2 separate regions of the Homo sapiens genome follow, and region 1 is linked to region 2. Evidence: fine-mapped expression QTL. A gene starts in region 2. The other region holds a variant in brackets. All regions are shown on one strand. Distances are from middle to middle.

Region 1 (8,000 bases), 45 kb before region 2:
CATTTATGGGTACCATAAATAATAATGCCCATTTCATAGATGAGGAAACCGAGGGATGGAGAGGTCAAGGAACCTACCCAAGATGTCTCAGCAAGAAAGTGGTAGAGCTGAGATGGGAACCCACACAGTTTGGCATCTATGACTCTTTTTTTTCTTTTGAGATGGAGTCTTGCTTTGTCACCCAGGCTGGAGTGCAGTGGTGCGATCTTGGCTCACCGCAACCTCTGCTTCCTGGGTTCAAGCGATTCTCCTGCCTCAGCCTCCTGAGTAGCTGGGATTAGAGGTGCCTGCCACCATGCCTGGCTAATTTTGTATTTTTAGTAGAGATGGGGTTTTGCCATGTTGGCCAAGCTGGTCTCAAACTCCTGACTTCAAGTGATCTGCCCGCCTTGGCCTCCCAAAGTGCTGGGATTACAGGCGTGAGCCGCTGAGCCCAGCTGGCATCTGTGACTCTTAATCTCTAGTAGGAAAGACATTCTTCCTAAAGAGAAGATGAAACAGATACACAGGAGGAGAAGCAACTTGCCCGGTATCCCAGAGCCCGTGAGCAGTGGGGTGGAGTTTGAACCAGGTAGTCCCTCTCCAGAGTGTGCAGCAAAATCCCTGCTGCCCCGCTCCACTGCTGCCACGCTGCCCTTCTCTTCTGTTCTCCAGCTTCCTGAGCAAACTGCAGCACCTGCCAGATCAGCCCCCAAATTTCTCCAAATGCATTTTATGCAAGAGAACCGTAAAATGTGACTTACATTAAATGGGATGCCCGTAAAAAAGGAGCTTTGTGGATGACAGTAGGCCTTCAAGAGGAGGAACTCACATTTCTGTAAAATGTGAAGAGGGCTTGAAAGTGAAATGCAGCTTAGAAACAGTGAAGCCAGGCGAGTGTCTAGACATGCACACGGATGGGGCAGCCAAGCCCAGTCAGCATTCCAGCCATGCTTCCCAAGGCGCACAGGGTGTGTGGGATTTTGTTTAGACTCTGAGTTTGGGCATTAAATCGTCATCCTTTAAAGGGAGACATTGAAGGCTCCCTTTGGTACATTGCCCTGACCCTGTGCCTGTTTGTGCTTCTCGTGTGAGAAGGGAAAAGTATAGGTTTGGGGTTTGCATCCAACTCACCAGCTGGTCCTGAGGCTGCATCTGCCTCTCCAGGGTCTTAGATACATGATGGCACTGTTGGCTTCCTGAAGACCTCTTCATCCTGCAGAAGGTGCAACTCCACAGCATCCTGAGAGGTTGGACACAAGGTGAGCAGAGGGCAAAGCCCCTGGAAATGGCCACCATTCCTGTGGCTGCCACTGTCTTCCCTCAGGAAGGATGGGCTCAGCCATGAGGGTGGGACACCTCCCAGAGTGTCCAAGATCCCCACATGGGGTCTCCAGCATTGGCCCTTCCCTCGCATCAGTGGTAGCGGCAGGCGGGCAGCCTGAGGAAGGTGGTGTCACTGTTAAGTGTGGGCTCTCTTTTCCCTGTCTGAGCTGCTGGGAGCACAAAGGAACCCTGCCTGCCAGGCTTGAGTGTCAGAATCTGGGCTTTCACCTGCAGGGACCTCAGGCCTCCATCAGCCAGGTGAGACTATGGTGAAATGTGTGACAAGCCGTGCTTCCTGTCTTTCCTCAACAGGCACAGAACATAAGCTGGCTTTTCCCGTCCCCTCCTCCTTTTGGACAGGAGTCCCTGCTGTCCAGGGAATAGCATACTAGGAAAGGGCACTTCCAGGGGCAGAAGCAGTGTGGGGCCAAGAGGCTCACTGGCAGTCTCAGAGACCCAGAGAGGCCCAGAGTCTCTGGCACCAGACTGCTCTGCGTCACACCCTCGTCCCCGACGCTCACAGGTCCTGCCCTTTCCATCTGGAGGTGAGTGCTGTGTGCCCGAGGCGGGGCTGCATCCCACTCACCTCTTGGCTTCCACAGGGGGGATGTGACAGTCCTCATGGAAGACTCGTGGACAAGTACCGCAGCAGAGAAGTTGTCCCCCTTGACAGCACACCTCGCATTCATCCGAGTTTTTCCGCTGCAAGGGCAGATAACGTGGGCACCGCTAGGACCATGGAGACCCACGAATGCTGACCCTGTGGGGTTCTAGAACACATCATTTTTGTGTGTGCCAGAGTGGATATCCAAACCCAATTTTTGATGGGGGGAGCTGATGCCACCTCCCTGGGGGAAATTGCAAGACAAATGGCACAACAAGCAGAGAGTCTGGGTGGTGACCGCCGCCACCAGGACTTTTCTTCTCTGGCTGTGGCTTGCCAACAGGTTCTGCTGCGTTTTGAGCTGTGCTGCTGCCTGCTGGCAAGCTTGTGCTTTGAGCTGGGCCACTCTGGGCGCATTTGCTGAGCCCACCAGGCCTCTATTAATAGATCTGACTGACCAAAGTAAGAAATGATGATAACTGGCATTTGGGTGCAGGAGTATGGGAACTGTTGTTCCTGGTGCCTTGCCTAACTGCCCCATGGTCGTAACATAACATGGCCCTAAAATGTTCCACAGTGGGCATGGATGCTATGACCCAGTAAATAACACATTAAAATAATTAAAATTAAGTTACCTTTGGCACTTACAATTGGCTTTACAAAATGGAACTCTATGGACCTTCTCTGTTAAAATATTTAATACTGATCAATATGAATTAAAACACGGCTTTCAAGGATTGAAACTCATTATGGAAGATCTATTTAGAGAAAGGGTGATTATCCCCACTGTTTCTCCATTTAACAGCCCAATTTGGTCTGTTCTTAGGCTTGGAAAGAATGAATGGTGCCTCTCGGTGAATTACTACAACCTGAATCCTGTGACCCCACCTGTGATGGCCCAATGTTATTGAAATTACTGACTCCATCCACTTAGCAAGTGGTAAATACTCTGCAGGCATAGATTTGACTAATGTGTTCTGTTCAGCGCCTATTTCAACAGATCTCAGCTGCAGGTTGCTTTCACCCCCGAAGGGACACAATAGACCGTTATCTGGCTACCACGGGGTACCTCGACAGTTCTGCCACCATACACAATCTTTGCAGGCAGGATTTGAACTGCATCTGACATTCTCTAGGAGTACAGGTGTAACATCACCCTGAAGACACCCTTCTTTCAGCAAATTCATTTGACACACTCAGGACATTACTCACAAAGAACTCATAGAAAAGGATGGGGTTTGTGTTTCCACATGGTGGGATTAAACTAAAACAAAAAAGTATGGGCCACTGCCCCAGGCATAGTACAGGGATCCACACCAATTTCTGGCCATTGTCTGGTCAGTTGAGGGATGCTCCATCCCTGACACTGTCAAAAAATAATTATTGACCCTCTGAGTACTCACAGTGTTCTAATAAACCTCCCAGCATCCTTCAGGCCTCTTGAGTTCAAGGAAACACATCCTTCATTTGTAGATTTTAGGTAAGCCCATTTACGCTGTTACTTGCAAAATAAGCCCACTTTGAATGGGGCCCCTTCTAACAAAAGGTTCTAGAATCTGTCAAATTGCAATACAGCAGACATTAGTGCCCTCCTGAGTCTCATTCACTGTGGAAGCTTTGGCAACCTCCTCTCATGCCTCCTGGCATCTCTGGACCACCCATGATGGCCATGGGCTTCTGATACAAAAAAAAACCAAAACCCCAAAAGCTGTTCTCCTCAGCCTCACACTATATGCTGATAGAGTGGCAACTGCTGGCTGCATCCAAGCCCTTCTGGAGACGGAGGCTCTCACAGGCCAAGTCTGTGGCTCTTTACACCAGCTGCCCATCATGTGTGGGTCATGGAGGCAGCACGCTGCAGGGCAACCACAAAACACATTTTGGGAGTACCAGCATCGGTCTCTTTGTTGTACACATACATAAGTGAGACTGCAGTGGAGACAGACGGACGTGCTGCCGAGCAGCAGTGACACTGGATGATGGGGCTGAGGGCAAGGCCCGCACTGGCTCATTCTCAGTCGGGTAAACCTTCATCTTATTCTCCCAACCTGGCCCTGGAAGGTGGGACTGAGAGGCTGGGTCAAGCATGCCCCTGGCTATTATGAGCTGACATGTGGCATTAGGAGAGTTAGAGGGTATTACCATGTTGGGGCTATTAATTAATGATCTGGATTTTAAAGATTTTTTTTTTTCTGGTTGCAAAAGTAACAAATGGTCATTATAGTAATTCCAATTGTACATAAAGGTATAATACAGAAGGCATATGTCCCTGTGATCTCATCTCAAAATAAGTGCAGTTGATTCTTTTGGCTATTTTTTCACTCATAGACCTACCTACACGTTCACATAAGCAACAATGGGTTCCTTCCCCACACGTCACAACTAGCATTAAGTGTCCTGAAGCTCTCCTGACCACAAAACCATTTGGTGGCTTTCCATTGATTGAAGGATAACTCCATACTTATGAATCCATGTATTTAAACAAATATCTATATCAAAGGTCTAATATTCTATAAGAAAAGTTTAAAAAAAAACCATTCTGTAGCTGTATCAGTTTATTCTGCAATACTGATAGAACTTGTGTTCGTCCCTAATTTTTTGCTATTATGATGTTACACTGAGCACCCCTGATTCTCAGGGTATTTCAGACCAGCATGGGAAAGATGATTTATATAATAGATGGCATTGGGAGACCAGTGCCTTAAACTTTGAATGAATCCAGCCTGGTCAGGCCAGCCTCCAGGGCAAGATGGGGGAGGCACCATTGTCTCTGCTGGAAGTTCACAACTAACGGGAAGCTCATGAGTGGAGCTGATGTGTCTGGAGAACACATCTAAGCAAGTAGAGGAGGTTGAGGAGGGGGAGTTAGTGCAGCCAATAGATGACTGCCATTTCCAGCTGTAGGGATGCCCTGTAGAGACAAAGCTCAGTTCAAAGGCGTCATTCCATCCTGGTGCTACCAATAAGAAGCATGGAGGATTCAGCAATACTCAGTATGCAATCATGGATGATCCTCTTGTCCTTTCATATACTGTTCCTGTCTATTTCAATGCCT[T/G]TTCTTTTGCTTTTCATGCTGCAGCATTCTTTTTTTTTTTTTTCTGAGACAGGGTCTTGCTCTGTTGCCCCAGCTGGAGTGCAGTGGCATGATCTCGCCTCACTGCAACCTCTGCCTCCAGAGCTCAAGTGATCCTCCCACCTCAGCCTCCTGAGTAGCTGGGACTACAGGTGCATGCCACCATGCCTGGCTAATTTTTGTATGTTTTGTAAAGAAGGGGTTTTGTCCTGTTGCCCAGGCTGGTCTCAAACTCCTGGGCTCAAGGGATCCACCCACCTTGGTCTCCCAAAGTGCTGGGATTACATCGCTCTGTATAGCAATACAGAGTCTCACTATATCACTCAGGCTGGTCTTGAACTCCTGGGCTCAAGCAATCCTCCTACCTCAGCCTTAGCTGGGACTACAGGTGCACACCACCATTCCTAGTTGATTAAAAAAAAATTTGTTAGAGATGGGGTCTTGCTATGTTGCCTAGGCTTAGAGCATTTTATTTCTGACACCTTTGGTTTATAGCCATCCAAATATCCAGATCTTTTTCTAAAACACATGGACATGATGAGCTTTTTCATTTAATTTTTATTTTAGAGTCATTTGCTTCCCCATCCCAAATTAACTATGCAAATTAATTGTTTTGAAGATGCCATGCCCAAATGTGGAGGTGACTCAGAGCTTGGAAACTCAGAAGCTCTAAGGTGAGCCTCCAGACAGGGAAAGTCTGCAACATGGTGACTGAGAGGGTAGTAGAAATTCACTTGCTATTTAACTCTCTCTTGAGATTTATTCTTGGAGGACAGAGCAAAAGTCCACTCTGAAAGACAGAAGGAGTCAATGAATGAGGTTATTCTGGAGGTTTTTCTTTTGTAGATACTGGCCTTCCCACTTCCTAGTGAATGTCTGTACCCAGACATCACACTGGATCTCAAACCCAAGAAGTCAAAAAGAAAAATTAGCTCCCTCCCCCAGTCAGTTTTTCTTCTGGACCTCACTTAGTGATAAAATCACTTTTTCCCCTGTCACTCAAACCCACGACCCTAGTTCTTCTTTCTTAACCTTTCCCATCCATTCCTTTCTCCTTCCATTTCTCCCTCTCTAGATTAAAATCTTTAGGATTTCATCCTAGTGATAATTTCTTGAGTGTTGCTGAGAGAGGCCTTGTGTTGGGTCCTGTCATCATAGACACTAGTTGTTCTCAGGACAGGAATAGTGTGCTGTGGACATGCAGCGGAGAGACAGACCACGGACTGGGCAGCCTGGAAATGCTGCAGGGGGGCCAGATGAGCTGGGCCTTGAGTAGATGTCAGGTAGAGGATGCAGGGGAGTGGTTGCAGGCATCTGTCTTCAGCTAGTTTCTTTTTAGGTTCTTACATCTCTCTTCACCTCAAAGCCCTTTGCCGGCATTTAAAGTTCCTGTACTCCTTTACTTGCATTTAAAGTTCTCCACCATCAGGAACAATATGTGCTCCTAACTTTGTCACCCACAGTTTTTTTTCTATGAACATTTAACTCCTTATAAATCATGCTGTTGAATCCTAACGGGAGCTCTTCACATTTCTGCTCTTAAAGCTCCACTTCTCCTTCAAGGATTTAAACCTGTCACCTATCTGTCCCGTCATTATAATACCTTCAGCAGCTCTCCTAGGGTCATTCCTTCACAACGTATATTCCGTTTCCAGTTCTTTGCGTTCCTTCCTTTTCCTTCGACTTCAAATTCATTTGGTGTTAACCAAGTTCCATCCTCATTCCGAATGCACTTCACTGAGGATCCTGTAAGAAAAAGCCCATTCTTGGATCTACCCCCATCCTCTGTGAATTCACCCTGAACCTCTTCATCCTAATTGTGGCCTTCTACCTTTCCAGGTCAAGAGAGACTTCCTCTGTGAGGTGGAAGGAGTAGCAGGGGAGTCTGCGGGCCTCTTCTCTTGGACTGAAGCCAGCCCTAAAGCCTGACTGAGTGGTGAGGGGTGGGACAGAATGTGCATTCGTGTAGTGCCTACATGCAGCAAGGACATGGCTGTCAGTACAGCAGGGCCCATGGGTGACTTCCAGGTGGGAGTGGAGGGTCTGATTGCCAGAAATACCATGATGTGGAAGAGTTTGGAAATTCCTTCCTAAGAAGCGTTTCTTCTGCAGTCTAGCTAGCAGGGTCCATTTCCTGATCAATTACACACACGGGTATTTTCCTCCCTTCTAGTGAGTCCTTCATCTAGGGATTCCAAAGAGCAGAAGACCAAGGAACTCACCGTGTTTCATTTTCTTCTTATATAAAATCCCTTTCGCCTCACCACAGGTCACGGGGAGCTTAGAACAGTGAAAATCCACAGTGTCACTTTTGGGTTTTCCTTAAAGTAGAAGAGAACAGTTTTGTGTTATTCAGTCTTCACTCCATCTTCCTTTTGAATTCTCCCCTCCATGAATTCCAATAATGTACAGGGTATTGGGGAACGTTCTCTGGTTAGTTTGCAGGAACTCTTTCATCTCGAGTGACAGATAAGCTATGTGTACACAGTGGCCTGCAACAAACCACCACTGCCACCAACACTATATCAAAAAAAAAAACATTTTAGTGGAACATATAGGGCATCTTCAGTGAATGTGTCTTAATTTGCAAGTGAATTGGCTGTCACTGAATAGTCTTCTATTCTATAAGCATCCTGCTGATCTCTCTGTGCTGATGGAAATGTTTCTTTGCATTCATGTTGCCAGAGGAAAAAAAAATCTTCATTTATAATCTTATTTCCTGACTTAAATGAAGACTTGGGTGAGTGAGGTGGCTGGCACTGAGGGGATGGTGTCAGTCTTAATTATTTGCTGTTTCTTTTCATTTTATTGCTTCCCTGCTTCTTCCTCGATGAATAAAAGAAAACCCTGGAGAGCTTTGAACTAATTTCCCAGTTGCTCATGGAGCAGTCTGGCAACTCAGAACCCCTGGGTAGAAATCCAGAGTTTAGATTCAGGGGAAGCAGTTGCAAGAGGGTTTAAAATAAATCTCAGCAATTCCTGCTGCCTTCCCCTCCAACCTCACTATGGGTGAATTCA
Region 2 (9,636 bases):
GTCTCTCTCTGTGTCTCTCAAACTTGAGATAAGCCTGAATGGATTCCAGCCACAGAGAAGTCACCCTGAGAATTTTCCTTGCCTAGAGGATGGACAAAAGGAGAAATACGGCAAGAGAGAACTGATTGCAAATAATTATTGAACATCTACTAGGCTCGGTCAGCGAGTCTTTGGGTACACAGCACTGAATAAGACCAACATGGAGTTGCCTATATTTGGGGGTCAGGGTAGGCACTGTCAAGTGGAGAAGATGAGCATTAATAAACACAAATAAATACCCATTTACAATTGAGAGTAGTGTTACGGAGGGAAAGCATAGATTGCTATGGAACTGAATAACTAAGGGGTCTTCATGAGATGAGTTGGCCAAGGAGATGTCTCTGAGGAGTGCTCTCTGGGCTGTGATCTGAAGAGGGAGTTGGGGCCAACCAGACTAAGACTAAGGGAAGATTATTGGCACTTCCTTGAGTCTAGGGCTCAATTAATGCTTTTAAAAACCAAAATTATATAAAAATAGGTCCACTTTTGTCCACATAGCATATCTCCCAGTGCCTGCCTGTCTCACATCAGAATGCACTGTGAGCAATATTAGCTGTTATAAATTGGGATGATGCCTGTAGTGAGTTGAATGTTGGATGGATATATCTCAGCCAAGATATATCCATCTAGAATCTGTGAATGTGAACTTATTTGGAAAAAGTGTCTTTGCAGTTGTAATTAAGTTAAGGATCTTGAGATAAAATCATCTTTGATTAGGGTGACCCTAAATCCAAGTGTCCTCAGAAGATTAGGTAGAAGACTCAAAAGAGAGGTGATGTAGAGATGAAAACATATCAGAGTGATGCATCTACAAGGCAAGGAACACTAAGGATTTCCAACAGCTACCAGAAGCTAGGAGATAGGCAGCTATCGGATTCTCCTCAGGGCCTCTAGAAGGAACCAACCCTGTCAACACCTTGATTTTGGACTTCTGGCCTCCACACCTGAGAGAATATATTTCTGTTGTTTTAAGCTACCTGGTTTGTAGTCATTGTTACAGCAGTCCTTATGACACCCTAGAAACCAACATAGCCCCTATGACACCCTCTCTCCTAACTACCCCCACCTTCTGTGATAATGAACATGCCTGGGCTGGGCCTTCCAAACTCTGGAAGCCCTGGTGGTTTGTGGTTTGAGACTTTAATAATCAGGCATATTGGTGGGGGCTGGGCTGCCATGGAAGGGTTCAACATGACTCACCATGTACATTCTCTTAGTGATGATGGAGTTGTCTAGGAGGCCTTCAAAGAAGGGAAATGGCTTGTGTATGGCATAGGCGATCCCCAGCTTCTGGTGCATGAAGTGCTGAAAAAGAGCCTCTTCCATGGCTCTTGTCATGGTGAACATCCTATGGAAAGAGGCATGATAAAAAATAGAAGCAAAGGCTGGGCGCGGTGGCTCATGCCTGTAATCCCGGCACTTTGGGAGGCCGAGGTGGGTGGATCACCTGAGGTCAAGAGATTGAGACCATCCTGGCCAACATGGTGAAACTCTGTCTCTACTAAAAATACAAAAATTAGCTGGGTGTGGTGGCGCACGCCTGTAGTCCCAGCTACTTGGGAGGCTGAGGCGGGAAAATTGCTTGAACCGGGGAGGTGGAGGTTGCAGTAAGCCAAGATTGTGCCACTGCACTCCAGCCTGGGTGACAGAGTGAGACTCCATCTCAAAAAAAAAAAAAAAAAAAATAGAAGCAAAACCTTGAGGAATGTGGGAAGCTTCTCTCTGCATTAAATGGGCAGATCTAAAGGTAAGCATTCTGGTCCCAAAGGCATCCTTAGTAGCCTGCAAAGCAATGTCTGCCTAAAAGGCTCATGGGTATAGGAAACAAGGACAATTCCCAGCAACAATGGAGGCTGAGAGTGACTGAAAATATAATGACAGAATCCCAAGGCGCTGCAGGTAAACATAAGGAAGGTATTAAAAGTAGCTAATATTTATGGAGTGTTTCCTGTGTGCCAGACTTTGTTCTAAGGGTTTCATATGCAGTAACTTATCTGATTTTCATAAAACCCTTGCGAGGTGGTTCCTATGACTGCACCTGTTTATACTGTTGAGGAACTGAGACACAGAAATGTTTAATAACTTGCCCCAGGGTTGCACAACTAGAGAGTGGAAGAGCTGGGAGCAAATCCTGATTCCAGGCTTACAGTGCTAACTATGTGTTCTATGGCCACACTGATCTGGGTTAAACAAGATGACCTGGGCTACGGCTGAAGCCATTAACTAGCAATGCTCATGCAACAGGGACCACCCTAAAATGGGTAGAGTTCAGCTGGAAACCTGGTAATATTTGGAAACTTTAACGAACCACTCCCAATCTTCAACACAAATGGGCCAAGCATAAATAAAAGCATGAGGGCTGAGAAAGGCATACTTAGTAAAAGTGACTTAACTGACTTGTTCACTGCAACCATTTCATGTCTCAGACATGCGCCTTTTCCCATGCCCATGCAGCATGTATTAAAGATTGGCCATTTATGGACTGTGAGGAGATATCAATAGGTTATAATGGGAAGAAAGTTTACAAATGACATTCTTGACAAATTGTCAAGAAAAGGAAAAGCACTAACAAAACATTCAATCAACTTGACAGTTTTTAACAAACAGAACAAACATGGATTCCACTTTTCCAACTTCATTTTGTGTTGAACAGAAAAGTAAATCGTAATTAACAACTGTTTACAGGGATTTAATCCCAGTGGCAGATTAAGCACCCTAGTCTCTTTCTCCTCATTCCCCAATTTTTTTAACTTGGCAGAAAAAAATACTCATGAAAAGAATAATCCGCAATCGCATAGGAAAACAAGAAAAGATGCCATTGAGAGTCTGTGGTGGTAAAGAAGTCTTGGAAGATAGAGAACAGATAGGAGAGAAATCTACTATCCACAATATGCACAGGGGAAGGAGATAGTGCAAAGATCAGTGCAAAGTCAGAGAAAGGCAGAGTAAACATATACTAAGAAGAGGAAGGGGTCTTGGAGGCTCCTTTTAGAACAATTCATTATACAGCAGCGCTCAGAACAGGAAGTCTAGAGCTTCCTCATTCTTCATCTGTCATGAGTCCCAAAGATGAAAGGGAGGCACAGAGAGGTTTAGTAACTCACCCAAGGTATTCAGTGGCAAAGCAGAGCTTGTCTGACTCTAAAGCCCTGTTTCTTTCTATGCAAGATACTACATCTCATATATGACTGTTCAGATTTTTATTATGTAAAGAGATTTTGCAAACGAATAAGCAAAAGACAAACATCCAACTAGAAAATAAAAAAGCAAAATACATGAACAGAGAGTGATAAAAGAATAAGCCAAATGTGCAATGAATAATACGATAAGCATGTTAACTAGCTAGTAGAAAGCATAAAGAAGGCCAGGCATGGTGGCTCATGCCTGTAATCCCAGCACTTTGGGAGGTTGAGGTGGGCGGATCAGCTGAGGTCAGGAGTTCGAGACCAGCCTGGCCAACATGGTGAAACCCTGTCTCTACTAAAAATACAAAAATTAGCTGGGCGTGGTGGTGCACATCTGTAGTCCCAGTTACTCAGGAGGCTGAGGCAGGAGAATCGCTTGAACCTGGGAGGTGGAGGTTGCAGTGATCTGAGATGGTGCCATTGCACTCCAGCCTGGGTGACAGAGCGAGACTCCGTCTCAGAAAACAACAACAACAAACAACCAAAAAAAGTGTAAATGAAGACAATTTGATAACATATTTGTCTATCAAATTGGCCAAGATAGAAAATAATAGTAATAATCTCAGACACTGTGAGTGGGAAGGTCAACAGGTCCAAATGTTCTGAAGGCTGATTTAGTAATCAGTGTCAAATGTCCTAAAACATGTGCTCCTTTGAATTTCCACTTCTAATAATTTATTTCAAGGAAATAATCATGTATTTAGAGAAAATATATAAAAAGTTCATGATACACTAGAGACGAAATTAAATGTACTCTCATTTTTTTCTTTTCCACCAGCTTCCCAAGTACCTCTAGTCATTTACACAATGGATAACAGATGAGCCGCCTATTGCGGGCACTGAAGGATCAGAGCTTAGGTGAGGGTAGAGGGCAAATCTCGGCTCCATTCACAATAACAGGCTGGACTCTGGCGAAAAAAAGAGGTGTCAGTGTTCCCTCCATGTGCCCCCTTTTAACAGTCTCCTAATAAGTACCACATGTCTGAGCTCTGAGAGAGCCTCAGAGTTTAAATAGTTGAACTCCACCCTGCAGCTGCTGCCGCGAAGTTAACTCTAAGAGCTGCAGTCACCAAGAGCGAAGAATAAAGCAGCAAAGACAGAAACTCACCTGGACTTTGAGTTTGTCGTTCCTGCCCCTTTCCAGGGGCTGGGACAGGGATCACTCCTCAAGATTGGGAGAGTTACAGGGAGATGCTAGCAGGCAAAACAGGAAGTCTGTGCTTTGACAAACGCAGTAAGGGGCCGGGCTTCCGAGAAAAGAAAAGTGAAAGTTTTCGGAGTTTGCCAAGCCGGAAGCTGAAGGCAGGTCGGTGCCTGCAGCCTCTCTCCACCTCCTCATGGGCACTTGTGAGGCTCCCAGGACGTCTTGGCAGTTGGGGTTTGGGGGAGGGCGTGTTGCCAGTTGGGATCAGCCCAGAGAGGGAGGTATGGGAGGAGGAGGCATAAGGGTACAGCCCCAGCGGCAATAGGAACTGGGAACTCAGCGTCCAAATGCTTCCCTAACCACATCTATTTTCCCATGACTTGTCCTCATTCTGTACATTTTAGGTTGATGAAAATGTTCTCAAACTGGATTGTGGTGATGTTTACATAACTGAATGAATTCACTGGAATTTATCCAGTGTGTTATCAAACTCTAACAACACACAAAAAAACAAAGAGAATGTGCCAGAAATGCCTAGAACTTGTCAGGATAAGATTATTACAGGAAGAAATTGAAATGAAAGGGAACCTGCACATGAACTGGAATTGTGCAGAGGCAGGCAGACCTCCAGGCAGAAAAATGGCTGAGAGCTGGGCAGGTAGTTGGGAGCCAGGAGTCTGAGGCAGAACTGGGACCTGCTGATTCCAGAGAGCAGTAACTCAAGGGCTGGCAGGGACACCCCTTCTCATGCCCCTTTTAAAGATCCCTAATGTACATTGACATGTGGGGCCTATGAAAAATCCTAAACTATTGGCCAGGCACAGTGGCTCATGCCTATAATCCCAGGACTTTAGGAGGCCAAGATGGGAGGATTGCTTGAGCCTAGGAGTTTGAGACCAGTCTGGGCAACATAGTGAGACCCCATCTCTACAAAAAATAAAAAAATAAAAAATTAACTGAGTGTGGTGGCATGCACCTTGTAGTCCTAGTTAGTGAGGAGGCTGAGGCTGGAGACTTGCTTGAGCCCAGGAGTTCAAGGCTGCGGTGAGCTATGATTGCACCACTGCACTATAGAAATCTGTGTAACTTTGGGCCAGGCTCGGTGGCTCACGCCTGTAATCCCAGCACTTTGGGAGGCTGAGATGGGTGGATCACAAGGTCAGGAGTTTGAGACCATCCTGGCCAACATGGTGAAACCCCATCTCTACTAAAAATACAAAAATTAGCCAGATGTGGTGGCGGGAACCTGTAATCCCAGCTACTTGGGAGGCTGAGGCAGGAGAATTGCTTGAACCCAGGAGGTGGAGGTTGCAGTGAGCCGAGATCGCACCACTGCACTCCAGCCTGGGTGACAGAGCAAGACTCCATCTCGAAAAAAAAAAAAAAAAAGAATTCTATGTAACTTTGATTAAATCAATAATTCTCAAATGTATTTGACCCACAAGTTCCCCTACCAGGACATCCACAAACTCCTCAGATAAAAGATGGGAGACATGGATCTAAAGTTTAAGAAGCTTTGAAACCAAGGCTAACTGCATAAGAGCAAGCCCTTCTATGCAGGCACAAACAGCATATCCCACCCTAGTATGTACAGAATAGCAGACCCGGCCTTGCGGGTAATGGCTGTGGGTGAAACAGAGGCATGGAAGCCACAGCCAGGAAAAATTCAATGCTAACAGCTGAGGAGAGGGTGCATTGATGCCTCAGCATGCAGTAACATACAGCGCTGTGATGCAGGGGATGGCGGTGGTAAAGGAATTAAGGTTATTTTATGCAAATGTCACATGTCACTTACCTGAAGCCCCTCCCCATCACCTGGAAAGCCCCTTCATGGGCATCTGAGGATCCTGGCAGCAAGAACTTCTTCCTTTAGATCTATTCAGAGATACACCAGGCAAATGCAAAACAAACAAACAAAAGTAAAGCAGGAGTGGGAAAATAAAGTCAATGTCAAATCAGGCAAAAATTGTTACATGAAAAAAAGACAGCTGCGAATGAGGATGAAAGATGTTTATTCTAAGCCATATATGCTTGGCTGGGCACAGTGGCTCAGGCCTGTAGCTTAGCTAGCACTTTGGGAGGCTGAGGCAGGCAGATCACTTGAGGCCAGGAATTCAAGACCAGCCTTGCCAACATGGCAAAATCCCGTCTCTACTAAAAACACAAAAAAATTAGCTGGGCGTGGTGGCACATGCCTGTAATCCGAGCTACTCGGGAGGCTGAGGCATGAGAATCGCTTGAACTCAGGAGCTGGAGGTTGCAGTGAGCTGAGACTGCGCCACAGCAGTTCAGCCTGAGCAACAGAGTGAGATCCCGCCTCAAAAAAAAAAAAAAAAAAATGCATGCTTGAGAACATGGTAATAATGGGAAAACGTCACCTGTTAATTCACATGCTAGTGATTATGTACTGAGATAAATTATACATAATTCTTTTTAGCTCCATTTTATTGAGGTATAAAATTTATTCATTGTAATGTACATTTTACCAAATGTAGTTACTACACCAGTCAAGATGTAGACCATTTCTAGGCCTGGAGAGTCGCTTGTGCCTATAATCCCAGCATTCTGGGAGGTCAAAGCAGGAGGATCGCTTGAGCCCAGGTGTTTGAGACCAGCCTGGACAACAGAGCAAGACCTCGTCTCTACAAAAATACATTTTTTTAAATTAATTGGGCATGTTGGCATACACCTGTGGTCCCCGCTATCAGGGAGACAGAAGTGGGAGAATTGCTTGAGCCCAGGAGGTCCAGTCTCTGGTGAGCAGTGACAGAGTGAGACCCTGTCTCAAAAAAAAAAAAAAAGATACAGACCATTTCTGTTACCCTAGAAAGTTCCCTGTGACCTTTGCAAACAATCCCCTCCTTAAGGCCAGCACCAGGCAACCACTGATCTGCTTTCTATCACCACAGATTAGTTTCGTGTGTATTAAAGTTTTTTTTTTTTTTTTTTTTATCAATGAAGGCACATGGAATGCATTTTTGGTGTATGGCTTTCTTTTCCTCATCATCATGCTTTTGAGATTCATCTCTGTTGTTGTGGGTCAGTAATTTATTCTTCTTTAGCAGGTATGCTAGCCACCAAGATCCTGCTCATCCTGTCTGATCAGCATGATGTCATCAATCAGTCTGACTTTTTTTTTTTTTTTTGAGACAGAGTCACGGTCTGTCTCCAGGCTAGAGTGCTGTGGCGCAATCTTGGCTCACTGCAACCTCCGCCTCCCAGGTTCAAGTGATTCTCTTTCCTCAGCCTCCTGAGTAGCTGGGACTACAGGCACGCATCACCATACCTGGCTAATTTTTGTATTTTTAGTAGAGATGGGGTTTCACCATGTTGGCCAGGATGGTCTTGATCTCCTGACCTCGTGATCTGCCTGCCTCAGCCTCCCGAAGTGCTGGGGTTATAGGCATGAGCCACCATGCCCAGCCCAGTCTGACATTCTATGGGATGTCCAGGTGATCCAGATATCTTTCAACTATATTATGACAAAGGGCAAGTGAGTCAATATAACCTGCCTGGACTGCCTACTTTCTTAACCTAGTCCTCTGGCTTTCCCATACATTCTGTGAGCTACCCAATATAGTTCTAAGAAATTGACTTTTTGCCTGAGTTAGCCAGAGTCAGTTTGGATTACTTTTACTCCCAAATCCTGACTGATAAAAATGTTGGGCACCAGAGGTTGAATTATAGGCAAGAGATATTCAAGGAAATATGATCAATCTGGGATTGGTTATCTGACATAATTGGACATAAAAACAGTGAACATCCCCATTAGCGTTCAGAGTCAGGAATTTTGGAGTTGTGGGCAAATAGGGGTAAGTTGGCAAATTAAATTACAGCACTGGATTGTGATCAAGACTCTATACAATTCATTTCCCCAATTCCAGGTGTCAGATTCTAGCATGCTTAGCAAAATGAAGAGAAATCTTCCAGGTAGAATGAAAGCATTGATTTACCTTTGGGGATTATGACCTACTTGGCCTAAATCTGGATGGGGGAACAGAGCCAGGAGGCAGGCCGGAGCCTTCTGACTCCACTGGTCACGTGGCAGTAAAGGAAGACATTGGGAACCAGAGATGGTCTGATGGTCCTACATATGCCTGGCCCAGGAATCCCTTACCCAGGAGAGGTTCTGTAGTGAGCATAGGGAAAAACAAGATAGTGGGAAATAGAACTGAAATTTCAGGCTATCCTTACCTGGGCTAATGCATGGTGTTGCAAAGTAGGGCTTTCTAGTAGTAGCAGCAGTACCCCTGAAGTACCAATCTTACCACCAGTCAGCTGAGGAACACCAATGGCCTTGTGCTTATAAGCAAAAGAAGCTGGCACATTTTCAAAAATGTCCAGTTCATTGGTGTCCTGGGTCTGCCTACTGCCTAAGGGCAGAGAGAAGAGAGAGAGGGGATGCTGGAGCAGGCGGTATAGTCTGTACCAGGCCTTGTTGGAGCCCCATGGAGACTGGGAGGAGAGGACAGCTGTGTCTAACAGAAGCCCAGCATACTTTTCCTTCTTGTTTTAAAGAGGGAGGGAGAGGGAGGGAGAGAGAGGGAGAGGGAGGGAGAGGGAGGGAGAGAGAGGGAGAGAGAGGGAGACAGAGGAGAGAGAGGACAGAGAGAGAGAGAGAGAGGAGAGAGAGAGAGATACTGGAAAAGGTGTCCTCATCAGTGTTCTAGAGTTTGTCTCAACCAGATTGGTGTTTGTTCCTTTGGTAGAAAGAAAGCAGAAGTGTGGAAGGGGTAGAAATTTCTTGCACTCTGTATTTTGCAAACTTATGTATGCAAATTTCCTTGCATATGTGTAATGAACCAGAAAAAGTAGGATTCAGGAGCACATGTTTTGGAAAAATACTGCTTTGCCTCTGGCTTTTCAATCCTCACTACTGTTCTGTCACTGGCCCTGGATTCTACCCATACCCTGGCTCTCATCAGCCCCCTGTCTTTGACCCATTTTTCTGCCTGGATTTCTAGTCCTGTGGTTATATTTTTTATATTTGCCCTTTGCTTCCATTTGTTTATCACTCGACTTTATGCTGATATAGTGTGTTTTTGTAAATTGTTTCAAATCCTTTACAGAATGAGGGCTGGGTATAAATGAAAAATTGTGTGCAAACATAAATGTAATACAGCTATCCTCCTGTATCATATTGTCCTTGAAGGTCTAGATAATCTCAGCTCCAAACCCTTTCCCCATCCAGTGAGAAGGCTGTCACTCTCCTCAAGATTTCAGTGAAATGGTTGAAGCTCATTTTTTTCCCAGTCACCCCTGGCTGCT

Evidence for each region.
Region 1: its variant is fine-mapped to the expression of SP110 in T cells (TOPMed, PIP 0.97).

Annotation. Positions count from the first base shown.
Region 1 is chr2:230,170,953-230,178,952 of GRCh38, forward strand. SP110 (SP110 nuclear body protein) reads right to left here. Exons shown (of 19, transcript NM_080424.4): 13 at 7,205-7,303; 14 at 6,586-6,728; 15 at 1,892-2,007; 16 at 1,114-1,222; 17 at 744-815. Among named protein-coding and RNA genes, the nearest start is that of SP110, 45 kb to the right of the region's middle. The variant T/G (reference allele first, on the strand shown) is at 4,965.
Region 2 is chr2:230,215,542-230,225,177 of GRCh38, forward strand. SP110 (SP110 nuclear body protein) reads right to left here and starts at 4,443. Exons shown (of 19, transcript NM_080424.4): 1 at 4,333-4,443; 2 at 1,240-1,387. The coding sequence starts at 1,386. It also overlaps a transcript of SP140 not described here. RefSeq lists enhancers at 1,082-1,231, 4,172-4,651 and a silencer at 4,369-4,555.